Linked DNA regions of Homo sapiens: regions 1 and 2 are each linked to region 3. The links come from fine-mapping of genetic effects on gene expression. A gene starts in region 3. Each other region holds a variant in brackets. All regions are shown on one strand. Distances are from middle to middle. Region 1 overlaps WRNIP1 (WRN helicase interacting protein 1). Region 2 overlaps MYLK4 (myosin light chain kinase family member 4). Region 3 holds the start of MYLK4 (myosin light chain kinase family member 4).

What was found. PIP is the estimated chance that this variant, and not a neighbour inherited with it, causes the effect.
Region 1: its variant is the best candidate, but not a certain one, in a credible set for the expression of MYLK4 in skin (TwinsUK, PIP 0.79).
Region 2: its variant is the best candidate, but not a certain one, in a credible set for the expression of MYLK4 in prefrontal cortex (BrainSeq, PIP 0.56).

What each region holds. Positions count from the first base shown.
Region 1 is chr6:2,780,856-2,785,095 of GRCh38, forward strand. WRNIP1 (WRN helicase interacting protein 1) reads left to right here. Exons shown (of 7, transcript NM_020135.3): 5 at 2,551-2,706; 6 at 3,469-3,548; 7 at 4,152-4,240. Among named protein-coding and RNA genes, the nearest start is that of WRNIP1, 18 kb to the left of the region's middle. The variant G/A (reference allele first, on the strand shown) is at 1,982.
Region 2 is chr6:2,665,721-2,669,960 of GRCh38, forward strand. It overlaps MYLK4 (myosin light chain kinase family member 4), which reads right to left. Exons shown (of 13, transcript NM_001012418.5): 13 at 1-2,179. Among named protein-coding and RNA genes, the nearest start is that of LINC01600, 33 kb to the left of the region's middle. The variant G/C (reference allele first, on the strand shown) is at 2,117.
Region 3 is chr6:2,749,082-2,753,321 of GRCh38, forward strand. MYLK4 (myosin light chain kinase family member 4) reads right to left here and starts at 1,841. Exons shown (of 13, transcript NM_001012418.5): 1 at 1,655-1,841; 2 at 55-325. The coding sequence starts at 213. RefSeq lists a silencer at 3,414-3,708.

The DNA of each region.
Region 1 (4,240 bases), 32 kb after region 3:
TATCAGACTGTCACTTGAGATCCATATAACATGGCATTCACTAACACTCAGCCATTGAGTATTTTATAGGTGTATTCATTTTTTAAATTCTCAAAATTGCTTTATGGAGATAGCTATTAATATTACCCCCATTTTAAGATAACAAAGCAAGTGGTGAAACTGACCCGTAAATCCAGGTCTTACTGGTTCCCAAGACTGTCCTTCCCCCCGTCCGCATTTGCCTCCACACCAGCCTTGCCATGCTGTTACTGATCTCACCCATTACATCATGCTCCTGAGAGGGGTCACCCGTCCATGCACATACAGAGCGGATCTTGGAGGGGTTCAGTCCTAGGAATCCCACTTCCTGAGCTCCACGTTGCAGAGCTCTGCACAGTGGGGATCACCTTGTCTATAGCTTGGAGCTGGGGGGTGGTGGAGGCTGCCTAGTGCCGCTGCCTAGTGCCAGCGCCTTAAGAACCCCACATCCTATACATCTTCCCAGTATGAGTGTGTTTACACACCCCACCCCAGTGCAACATGTCTGCCCCACAGTGGATCCGCAGACACATAAATATCATTCAGATCTTGGAGAAAGCTGCTTTTACAGGCTTTGCTCTATAAATAGGGATAGTGGAAGCATTGCCCTGGAAACCTGTTAGCTTATACTCTTGGGCCTTTTTATAACTCCAGTGAGACAAAGACCCACCCCCAGAGTTGTGATTATTTTTGTATATGCCACCTAGTTCATAGTTACCCACTAGTAGGATCCAGTGATGTTTCTGCATCAGAGTGAAGGAATTTCTAAATGAGAGCAAACTCTCTGCCATGCATTGACATCGGGGTTCTATAGAAGTCGTCAGATTTCAGGTTATAAAGCAGTGTGTAATAAAAGCAAACATGGAAGGTAGCATAGAATAATACTAGTATCTATCACTGATGCAAAAGAATCTTTTTACAGTGCCTGCTCTGTGCCAGGCGTGTGTTATTTAATACAGCCCTGTGAGGTAAGTGGTCTCGTTTTTCCCATTTTACAGATGAGAAACCTGAGGCACAGTGAGGATCAGGAACTTGCCCATGGCCCATGAGCTTGGGGGTCCAGCCCAGGCTGTTTGGTCCCAGAGCCTGTGCTCTTGTCCATTATACTGGTGGTATTGCCCCTGGCATTGACAAAGTGGGAAAAGATGACTAACCTGTGTAGGGGGAGTTTAAATTTGACATAAAGTGGTGTGGGTAGTTTCTTCCAGCCCCCATGCCCGTGAGTTTAGCCAGGCCTGTTACCTGCTACCCTCTTCCCCGCCTTCCTCCACCCTGCAGAGGAGCAGAGCGTAGCCTGAGTGCCTGGGCCAGCAGGGTGAGGGAGTGGGCCAGAACCATGCAGATGTCATCCAGGACACCCTCTCGGCCAGTGTCCATAGCACTCTGACTTCACCAGGGGAGCCCTGCACAGGAGACACTCAGTTTGTTCTCAGAAATCCAGTAGCTGGGCTGACCCATCCATCTGCCCTGGCTCTCAGAAACCAGAATCACTCAGGCTGAGCCGTGGGTCCTGCAGGTCTTTCCCCTGTGGGAGGCCAGCATCTTCGCTTGCTCTCTTCTCCACCTGAAGACCAACTGTCATCTTACCAGCGAGCTCAGCTGCCAGGGTTTGTGGCTGGCGCCAGTCGTATTGTGGACATGGGCTTATGCTGAGCACAGACCAGGTGCTCCTCTGGGAGGAGTGAGACTCACGGGAACACCATCCTCCGCTTTCTCGTGAGGAGGGTGCCCCCTCCTTGAACTTACCTAAGGGACGATGGCCAGAGAATAGTGAAATGTATGCAGGTGCCACTGCTTAGTTCCTGAGAACTGTTTAGCTGTCATTTTTTTGCCCTTAAATATGCCTTTTTTTAAAGCACATTTCACTGATTTCATGTGAATCTAGGGTAAAAATGGAGTAGTAAGACCAGGCGGTGAGAGAGTGGGCTTCCGTCCACTTCAGGGCGGAAGCTGGTTAGTCCAC[G/A]TGTCGGTCCTTCTGGGACCCTGCCACACAGGTGTCCCCACACCAAGGCTGGCAGAAGGAGGTTTAAATGACCACAGGCTTCGGATATCAGAAAGGCAGCTGGAAATGACACTGAGGAACAGATGGGCTATAACAGCTGCCCTTGCCACTTGGCTCTACATCCTCCTGGCTCCGAGCAGGCCCACCGTTGCTTTTCCTCCAGTAGATGGTGGGCCACGGGATAGAGCCAGAACAGAAGACTCGTCCCCCTCCACTCTTGTCTCTGGCAAATCCACCAGCTGGGAGGACCACCTTTCCTCCCTCCTGCCTCTGTGCGTGTGCGTGCACTCCATGTCGACAGCCACAGGTTTCTGCTGCAGCAGCCTCTTCCCCTGAATAGGACTGGGATTAAGCCCCAGCAGCTGGTGCACCCCACTCAGAGCACGGTTAAGGCAGCTGCCCAAACCTCTCCTCGGCTTTCTCAGGGCCTTTATTCGTTCAGGCTTTCTGGAAGTCAGCTGGCGGAGGTGAAGATGGCTTGGGCGCCCCTCCTGTGAGCTCTGTGTGAGTGGTGCTCTTTGTGATGTCAGGTGAGGAGCATTACAACTGCATCTCCGCCCTGCACAAGTCCATGCGGGGCTCAGACCAGAACGCCTCCCTCTACTGGCTGGCTCGCATGCTCGAGGGAGGAGAGGACCCACTCTACGTGGCACGGAGGCTTGTCAGGTTTGCCAGCGAGGACATAGGTGAGTGTGATGGGAGGGTCCCGGAGTCCTATGTCCATGAGGGTGGGGAAATGGCTAACAGTTACATCGTGGCTTTTTTTTTTTTTTTTTTTGCAGGGCGGGGTGGGCGGGGGTAGCAGGAAGAATGTCTCAGGGCTATGTGAGACTGGCAGGAGAAGATAAGACTTTATGCCTGAGCTCAGTCGTTTATTTCCTGGTGTATGTGCTTTTGAATGTTTATGTTCATAAAGTCACCATTTTCTGTTTCCTCTTCGGGAATGTTTTTACTAACATGAGTGGCTATTCAGAGTATTGCAATAGATGAGCTGCTTTTAAATTTGCTTTAAGTCAGGTGTTCAAGGTTTTCTTTGGACAGCTCCCAAGGTAGAAATGGAAGACTCTAGACACTATATGAAGAAAAAGATCAGGAAAGCTCTCCTCTTCTTTGGTCTTAGGGGATGTTTTGTTTTTAGTGTTTCCATCCTGGTGAATGTCTCCATAGCCTTCACTTCTTATGTTTGTTATACAGAGACTCATGTTTTTCTAGATGCAGAGTTTTTATCCACAAGGAAACAGTTCTTAACACCACACAGTAACCACTCTCAATATTTCTTGCATAAGTTCATGGGATCAGAGACTAGAGCTAAGTCAGGCTGTTTTGCTACATGGGATTGTTTTGGTCACCAAGTGTACAAGCAGTGGTGGTCTGTGGTCGCCTGCACATAGGCCAGGAGGACAGTGTGTGTCATGACTGAAACTCTCCTTTGTCTCTGTGTGTGGCAGGTCTGGCAGACCCGTCTGCGTTAACACAAGCGGTTGCTGCCTACCAAGGCTGTCATTTTATAGGCATGCCTGAATGTGAGGTAAAGTAATCAGCTCATTTCTTGCAAATCACTTCTTTTCTCTCTCGTGCTCTGTCCCTTTGTAGATTTGAATAAATGTCCCTCCTTCACCATTGGTGTATTGGACCCACTGAGTATGCTGCTTGGCTTTGGAATTCCAATTGTAGACTCTTAGACTCCTAGAGAGGGAAACCTTCTGTGTCAACGAGGTCATGTTTCAAACTGTTCTCGGGATTCCGGGGTTCAGAGCACATGCTCCATATGTTCCAGGGAGCAGAAAGGTTAAAGGAGCTGAACAGCAAAGCCTCTGCAAGTTCGCCCCCAGAGCAGCTTCATATTCATCTCTTTTATATATTGGGGGCTTAAGAAAAATTTAATGTAGTAAAAAGTCCTTCAGTTAAAAAAAAAAATGAAAACCACTCACCTGGTTTGCCTCTCGTTTCACCTCATGAGAATTTCTTCTGTCTGTCGTAGGTGGTTATCCAGACTGTAGGCGCAAAAGGGGGATAATAAAAGCATGTGGGGATCTTCTCAGAATTACCTAGAGCTGTGTATCAGAAGGGGCTCTGCAGAACAGAAGCTTGGCATCTTGCTAGTAAAATGTGTCCTCTGTGTCATTGGTAGGTGCTTCTGGCCCAGTGTGTGGTCTACTTTGCCAGAGCCCCAAAGTCCATTGAGGTGTACAGCGCCTACAACAACGTCAAAGCCTGCCT
Region 2 (4,240 bases), 83 kb before region 3:
CAGGACAGAAAACGCCCTGCCACGAGGGGCTTCAAATCAGACCCCTGTGTCCTGTTTAGCATTTGAGTGAATGCCAGCTCTCTGCGGTCTAACTAAGTATTAATGCATGCACTGGCTTGTATTTTTCCAGGCTCAATGAATATCATCAGCTAAAGATAGCATAGTAATATAACACTCCAGTCACAGGGTTTTGTGTGTGTGTGTGTGTGTGGTGTGTGTGTTTTAAGCAAACTAAATTAAACACTTAAGCATAGTCACATCACAGGAACATAAGAAACCAACCTCGGATAAATGCAAGGCCAAAGGAGAAAAAGAAACGCATCATAATGTAAGAGCAAAGGCTGGAAAGGAGTCAGTTTTATAACTAACACGACCACAAAATTCGCATGTGGCCTTCACCAAATCACGTATTTCCTTCTATCTCTACTTCCTCCTTACCTTAAAGATGAGAATAAGGATGTTGCACACATTCACGGCATGCTGTAAGGATTCCTTAAGTGGATCTGAGAGATAATGGGGGAAAGCTGATGCAAAGTGAAACTGCCATCCCTCATGAGGCCACCAAGTAATTCTTATGCCTTTCATTGCTATTGCGACAACAGTAATTGAGACCATTCTGGCCAACATGGAGAAACCCCATCTCTACTAAAAATGCAAAAATCAGCCGTGCGTGGTGGCGTGCGCCTGTAATCCCAGCTACTCGGGAGGCTGCAGGAGAATCGCTTGAACCTGGGAGGCGGAGGTTGCAGTGAGCCGAGATGGGGCCACTGCACTCCAGCCTCGTGACAGAGCGAGACTCCGTCTAAAAAAAAAAAACAAAGAATAAAGGCATTAACACAGCTGATTCAACACAACAGTTATTTGGAAATGGAAAATGTGAGAAAGCTCATGAATCTGGTTGGTGAGCTTGGAGTTCAGCGGGTAACAGGAATTTTGTGGGGCTTTTCCTTGCCTCTCCTTCATGTGGAAATGACACACTCATTTCGCTCTTTAAAGCCCAGTGCCTTTCTGGGCCCCATAAGCTGTCTACAGTAGGGCCATTTCCTTTCTTACATATCTGCCATGAAATGGCACACAGGCTAGGCATAGGAACCTTCCAACTGGAACGTTCCAACATTCTCACGTCCAGCAGGTGAGCTTGCAGAGTTGCCCCCACCTCTGGTGTCCGATTGAGATTTCTTCACCACCATTGAGTCCCATGAGACAGCACAGGCGAGAGACTGTACTTGGTCTTTGCCACTGTTTGTATGTGTTTACCCAGAAGCTTGAATGTTATTTCCCAAGTCACTTCAATGTTGAAAGCTCAGTGCTATCTTGCTCCAGGAGGTGCAGATCCGTCTCTTTTAGTTGACAAATGGGGCTTGAGGAAACCTGTTGTGACTGTTGACATTATTTCAAAGGTCAGAATTTCAAAGTCCAACCATAAACAGATACTTTTTGCATCACCTCTCAAAACCAATGTGTTTTGTGGGGATGAACTGTCAGTCAGAAGGGTGCAGGGAGTATAGATGTGAAAAACAGAATCAGCTACATGGAAGAAAACGCACGCTGGGGACAATTCAGAATAAATGAAAGACACAGTGGCTGATGCCTCTTGTTGGAGAATTCAAAGACGGCTTCTGTTCCAGCAAACAAATTATTTATCCATTGTAGTCACGTGACCACAGACCAAATCAAAATGACAGAGTCTGTGAAACTAAGTCTCCAAGGGTGCATGGGAGTCAGAATTCTTTCTGGCCATCTAATTGCCCCTTCCAAAGGCATAGTCTAATGGCTGGAAGTAGCTTTCTCCCTCTAAATGCATCCTCCAGTTTTAAAATCTCCAATCAATCTTAAGTGTCACAGCTGTAGTCATTTGAGAAATGGCAGACATAATGCACCCCCTGCCCCAGTGACTAAGATCAAAAAATTTTTTTAAAAAAGTAAAAAATCTCAAGATGGCAGGGAAACATCTTCCCAACATCACCACCACCGGGTGCAGGGATGTGTTTGCGCCCTGAGACCAGACCGCAGCGCTGGGTGTTCCTCTGAGCGCAGCAGAGGCACTCCAGTTCAAGTTCACATTCAGGGTCGAGGGCTCCCCCTGCTAAGACTACCAGGTCATCACAGGGGTCAA[G/C]GCATCAGAACTGCTGATTTTTCAAAAAATTTTCTCGAAGCAGCAGCAACCACAGCAGTTTTCCTGCAAAGCAAACAAAATATGAATCTTGTTAATTCAGCAGGGTTTTTAAAATTATAATTAGTTGGTTGTGCCCCTTAGGAAAACCACAGATGATTTTTTTTAATAACATATGTGTGTATATGAGCGGGGGAAAAAAAAAAGAAACCTCTTGATGGATTCCACCACCAACCAGAGTTGGGCTTTTTATTTTTCAGTTTGTGCAAGACATTTTTTTTTTCTTTCCAACTTTTATTTTAGGTTCAAGGGGTACATGTGCAGGTTTGTTACATGGGGACATGTGTGCAAGATATTTTAGTACTATTTGCAATATTGAAGGACAAGGCCTCTTTGTTTCGTCTGAAGTACAGCCACTCCGTCCATCTGGTCAGCTTGATCCCAGCATCAAAGTGAGAATGTGGCCTCAGGTGTGGGGAGGTTTCCATGTGCTTTATGACCACGTCTGACCTGGGGCCCGCACACGGCTACCTGCCATCATTCCTGTGGCTCTGAGGAGTACCCTAAATTTATATCCCATAAGTTGGCAAAAGATATAACAGAGGTAACCAGAAACAAAATGCCACCAGGTTGATTTTGGGAATGTTTCCTCTAACAAATTGTAGGAGACATATATGCCTCAGTTGACATTGTGAATTATGCCTTATTTATCGGCCTGGAACTCTTTCTTTTACAACAGGAATAATCTTCAGCCACCAGATTTTTAAAATCAATATTATCTCAAATTTGGTTTCCATCATAATACATCCTGCCATAAACCCATCTCATCCTGGCAGGGAATATTATCGTGAAGAATAATCTTTTTTTTCCTAACTTCTCAAATGAGGCTGCTCCCAGAGTTAAAATCTTATGTTAAGTTTTATTTATTTATTTATTTTTTTAAGTAAGAAGGTAGGCAGGGAATGGTGGCTTATTCCTGTAATCTCAGTGCTTTGGGAGGCAGAGGCAGGAGGATCACTTGAGCTCAGGAGTTCAAGGCCAGCCTGGGCAACATAGTGAGACCCCCATCTCTACAAATTTAAAAATTAGCCAGGCGTGGTGGTGAAAGCCTTTTCTCCCAGCTACTCAGGAGGCTGAGGTAGGAGGATCACTTGAGTCCAGGAGTTTGAGGCTGCAGTGAGCTATGCTGATGACACTGCACTCCAGCCTGGGTAACACAGCAAGACCCTGTCTCTAATTAAAAAAAAAACAAAAACAAAACAGAAAGCAAACTAGGAAGCATCCAGATTGTGTGTATCTGAAATGATTCTTCCTTGGCCTGTAGTGTGACTCAGGTGAATTTCTGAGGCCAAATGGGGCTGAAGAGTGCAGGAAAGGAAGGCAGCCAGCTCCATGGCTGTCAGCAGCCCTCCTCAAGCAGTTCCAGCAGAGGCTGTGTCCAGCTGCCCCAGCGTGGCCAGCCCAAATGCTGCTGTCTGCGTCCTCTGCACAGCCATCGCTTCGTAGGCTGCTGTGGTCTTCCATCACATTGGGTTCGAGGCACCCATGTCTGTGTGGAAGGACTCTACCCCCTCCCATCACCATTTCCTCCTCATTCCTCCCCCACCAGACCCTGGCAGCAGGCCCGCCTTGGAATGCAACCCTGGCACCCAGTGAATTCATTCCCACCAGGCCTCCAGAGTGGCTCCGGTCCTTATGGTGGGAAGGTGGTTTGTGGCAAACCCTCGGGGTTTGTGGTCGCTAGGGACAAAACTGCTTCTGGGGGTGAGGGTGAAGGCGAGGGAGAGAAGGAGTGGACACAGCCTGGTTGTCTGTGGATCCAGGAACTGACGGTGCAGGACTGGGGCACCTCGCTGAGTGCCATAACCTAGGCCTGGGGGCACGAGGGTCCTTTCTTGCTCCAGGTTGTCCTCACAAGAAACAACTCTCTCCTACCTTATTGAGACTTTCATGTCCTTGCTGTTTTTAACAAAGAAGAATGGTCTTTGTAAATGGAATGCACAAGCCTTCCTGTTCACTTTTTGTGGATTTCTAAATAAGTGACAGGGCACATGTAAGCGTCCCTTCCTCCGAAGGCCAAGTGTTTTCCTAGCACTGATGTGTGGCCTTTACTATGAGGTACTGATT
Region 3 (4,240 bases):
AAAAGATAAGATAGAATGAATACTTTTTAGGAGACTAAATTAGAACATGATTACCTCATTATGTCCAGATCTTGAATCCTGGTCCCCAGAATTTTTTTCCAGAAAACACTTCACTTTCTCCACCTCTTCCCTGCACTGAAAAAAGGCCATTTTCTCCAGCTGGTTGCTGTTATAACACGTGTTGAATTCTTCCAGCCTCTTCACTTTTAACATCTTAGTAGTGAGTCCGATTAAGCTACTTTCTGGAGTGTGGTTTTCGTCTCCCTCTGTCTCCGATTTATAAATCAGGACACAATTATGACTCTTCAGTGCTTCTTTCTCTTGACTGCAAAGAAAGGAAACACAAAAAGTTCTCATCACGTATTCATGCATTTGACTTCTTGAGAAAATGACCAGTGAGAATTTGGAAGTCCCTTCTGTTTAAACTGGAGAGAGGATCCAAAATCAGGAAAAGAAATACTAACATTCATATTGAGTTTCCAACATTGGAACTTTAAAAGGAAAAAAAATTTTTTCACTTTAAAACTACAAAAGCAAACAGTAAGAAGCAATGTCAAGATTCACTGGTGATGAAATATGCTCCTTATTGCACAAAACAAGCCGTAGATCAAGTGGCCAGCTTGGATGTAAATTATAAAGTATCTTTGGGTTTAATTGGAACCGCAGGTTTTGCAGCCCCGTGGGAAGGGCTTATCACAGAAGGGGTCTCTCTGCTTCCCCTGGCCTCCCTCTGCAGAGGGATCGCTCCCGAATGAGTCCTTTTCCAGAACTCTTCTCTACCTATGCCTTAAAATGTGTGGTGTTTATTTGTGAAAAGAAATTTATTTCCTTACAGTCTTCTCACGTGGACAGCACTCCCAGATACCTTTCCTTGCATCTGCATTAACAGCTATGTACCGAGAAGTTCAGAGTCTTTTCACTCTCCTTAAAATACTTTCCTCGCAAATGAAGTAATGCAGCATACATAATTCGCTTTGATACTAGAGACATATACGCATGTCTATATGTACACATCACTTGATTGCATAGAGAGGCAGGGAGAGGGAGAGACATTTGAATTTGTGCTAGTTCCGCATGGCTGACAACTGAGGCCCCCTGGTGGAGATTTTCCGAAAAGCGCCTCTTCGAGCATTTTCTCCGCTTAAAAACCGTATTGTGATTCTCATCAGAAAACTTAATATTTTGTTTTGTCAGTTCCTATAGTAAAATGATACTCTTGAGTTCCAAAGTGTTTAAAATTCACTGCTCTAACAAATTATACTTATCCACATAAAGAGCTTACATTCAAACAAATAAAAATGCAAATATTAATACTATCAACCAGAGCTCTACAGATATATTACAGATCATTCTTAGCATTCTTTCAAATTGCCCTGAAAAAATTATTAAAATAAGGAAACAAATGCATGGCTATTTCTAAGGCAAACTACGACTAAAATACTATGGTTAATTGCAGATGAAACTCAAGTTGGATCAGGAAGCCACACAAAATTAATGTATTAAAACAAAAGCTTAGGATTAAGATACAATAATTTTGCAAAGAAATATTAAACATTAAGCTCTACCTGAAGTTTGGTACAATTTGTTATTGAAGGTAACTTAGAAAAAAGGGGAGGAGATTTGAGAGGTTATAACAATAAACAAAGATAATTACCATTGATAGGATCACATCGAAGAGCTTGAGCCACTCCAAGTCTAGAGCATACATTCCAGAAGATAAAGAGAAATTTTGCAGAATTCAAACTGACTATGAAAGTCTCTGGTAAAAGTTTTGACTCTCAGTCGTATAAATCTTCTGAAAAGACAAGTGTCCACTACGAGAGGAAGTATCTTCTCTCTCAAATGCCACTTTCAGCCCCTGTTTAAATTAATATGGCTCTTGATCTCACGTTGCTCAGCTGTTGCCTTCTTAGTCAGATGGGGAAGAATATTAATTTTAGACACCAGGCTTTTCAAGGCCAATGGCTCCATTTCAGAGGTCAGGTAAGGAGAGGATGAACCGGGAACACTGGATGAAATATCACCTTCACCTTTCCCTCGTATCATTGTGTCAATACTCTCGGATTTACAAAGCTAGATTTGTCCTCGGCAATCATCTGCCTGGACCTTCTGCCCCTTTCAGACTCAGGATTATTTAAGTGCTCATTAAATTTCCCCCAGTAGGGAAAATGCCAGGTGTGGCAACCCCACAGCCACCTCTGTTTGCCCATCTTACGCTTTGAGCATATCCAACTGCAATATAGAAGATCTTCTGAAAGCAGTTAGCAAGTTTGTTTTATTTTTCTCAGTTCTTAAAGATGTTTGCAAAGTCTCCAACCATTTCTAGCTCTAGGGAAAGGTCAAAGGCACAGGCATCCAGGAAACAGGAATAAATTTTTCATAAATTCTCCTTAAGCAACACTAGGACTTCATCCGTAGTTTTCTGCACAGACCAAGAAAGGGGAATTTCAACCCACCTGCCCGACTCTCACAGTAGTGCATCCCTAGATTCACTGAAGTGGCATAAAACTTTGATTGCCCAGAGGCTGGACTTTGCAGTCTTGAAAACCCTGCAATTTTTCAGGGCCTGGCCAATTGTCACCTCTTATTTGGAGCCTGTGTTAGCCCCTCTATGCCCCATTCTAACACCAGCCTCTGCTGCTCTTCTGCTTCTTTTAAAAAAAAAACCTTATTTTTAATTCAGATCGATGCATTCCATGTGAAATAAAAATACATATTTTTCCATTTTATGTAGTATTAATGAATTACAGCAAAATCTTTTTTAAAACACAAAACGCTTGTTATTTTTCAGATTGGAGAGCTTTGTTCTTCAGCAAAAGTAATGAAGTGGAACTATAAATTTGTGGAGATAAATTATCTGACAAAAGTATTATACAAAGACTAAGCTGGTTTGAGGTTACCAATTTTGTTAGTATAATTAAATTGTGTAGAAGTACTGATAAGGCAACAAATGCCCTGCCAGAGGCAAGATGTGTGTGGGCTGCTGCTGATCCAACCACATCCTCCACCCGGACCACCACCACGCAAAAGCAGACTTCCTATCTCGTTGGCTCCAGCAAACCAACCACAGGCTTGAGTGAGCCAGAGGCCAGGAGAATCTGCTCCTTAGCTTATTTTTTTGTAATAAACTTTTCCTTTTAGAGTAGTTTTACATCTACAGAAAAGGTGCAAAGGTAGTTCAGAGTTCCCCTTGCCCTGCACCCCGAATCCTCTGTTTTTAACATCTTACGTTGGTATGGTATACTTGTCACAATTAATGAACCATGGTGAACGTTATTATTAACTAAACTCAATACTTTATTGTTGCTGGGTTTTTTTTTTCCCCAAATGCCCCTTTTCTGTTCCAGAATCCCATGCAGGATTCCACAGTACATTTAGAATCAGTAGGATTTATGATAGATTGGGTATGGGGTATGAAAGAAAGATGGTAGACACCTTTGCATATTTTCTTCTGAGCACTTGAAAGACAGAGTGAACATTAACTGAGATGGAGACGGCTGTGGGAAGGGCAACTCTGGAGGGAAAGGTCAGGCATGAAGTCTTTGGCAAGTCCATTAAACGTTCAAGTTGAATAGGCTGTGGAGATAGAAACTGGAGTTCCGGGGAGGGGTGTAGGCTGGAGATAAGAATTTGGAAGGCATCCACATATAGACATTTCCATGCACAATATACATTCAATACATATTTGATTAATGACTAGATAGAATGATCTTTAATTGTGTCTACTTGCCCTAAAAAGCAAGTCAATTAAAATAATCCATGCTAAAAGTGACTGATTGTCTGGTTCTGCTGCATCACACTGTTCCCAGCTTCCGATGGCATACAGGACAAGCACACTGCTGGCACAACCCTTGACCACAAAAAAACAGGTTATACATGCATACTCATTCTGGTCTATCAGCCTAGCCTCAGGATCCTAAGTCCATACCCATAAAATGTTCTGCATGCTTAAAGATGCTCTTATACCCGGAAAAATTCATTAGTGAGGAATATGAGCAGGCCCAGGAACACTTTTCCAGTATTTCCATATTTTGGAGTTATACTTCTCTAAAAAATACCAACATCAGGAAAACAGCACCCTACAGAGCCATGGAAAAGAATCCCTTGATTTTTTTCAAGGGACATTTCCATTAGCTGAGTAAGAGACTGTGTTGTCAAAGGAGCCACATGAAGAAACATCGTCGACAGCTCTTGTCTACGGGTTGGCATTGAAACCCGGCTGGATTACACTAAGAGTTTT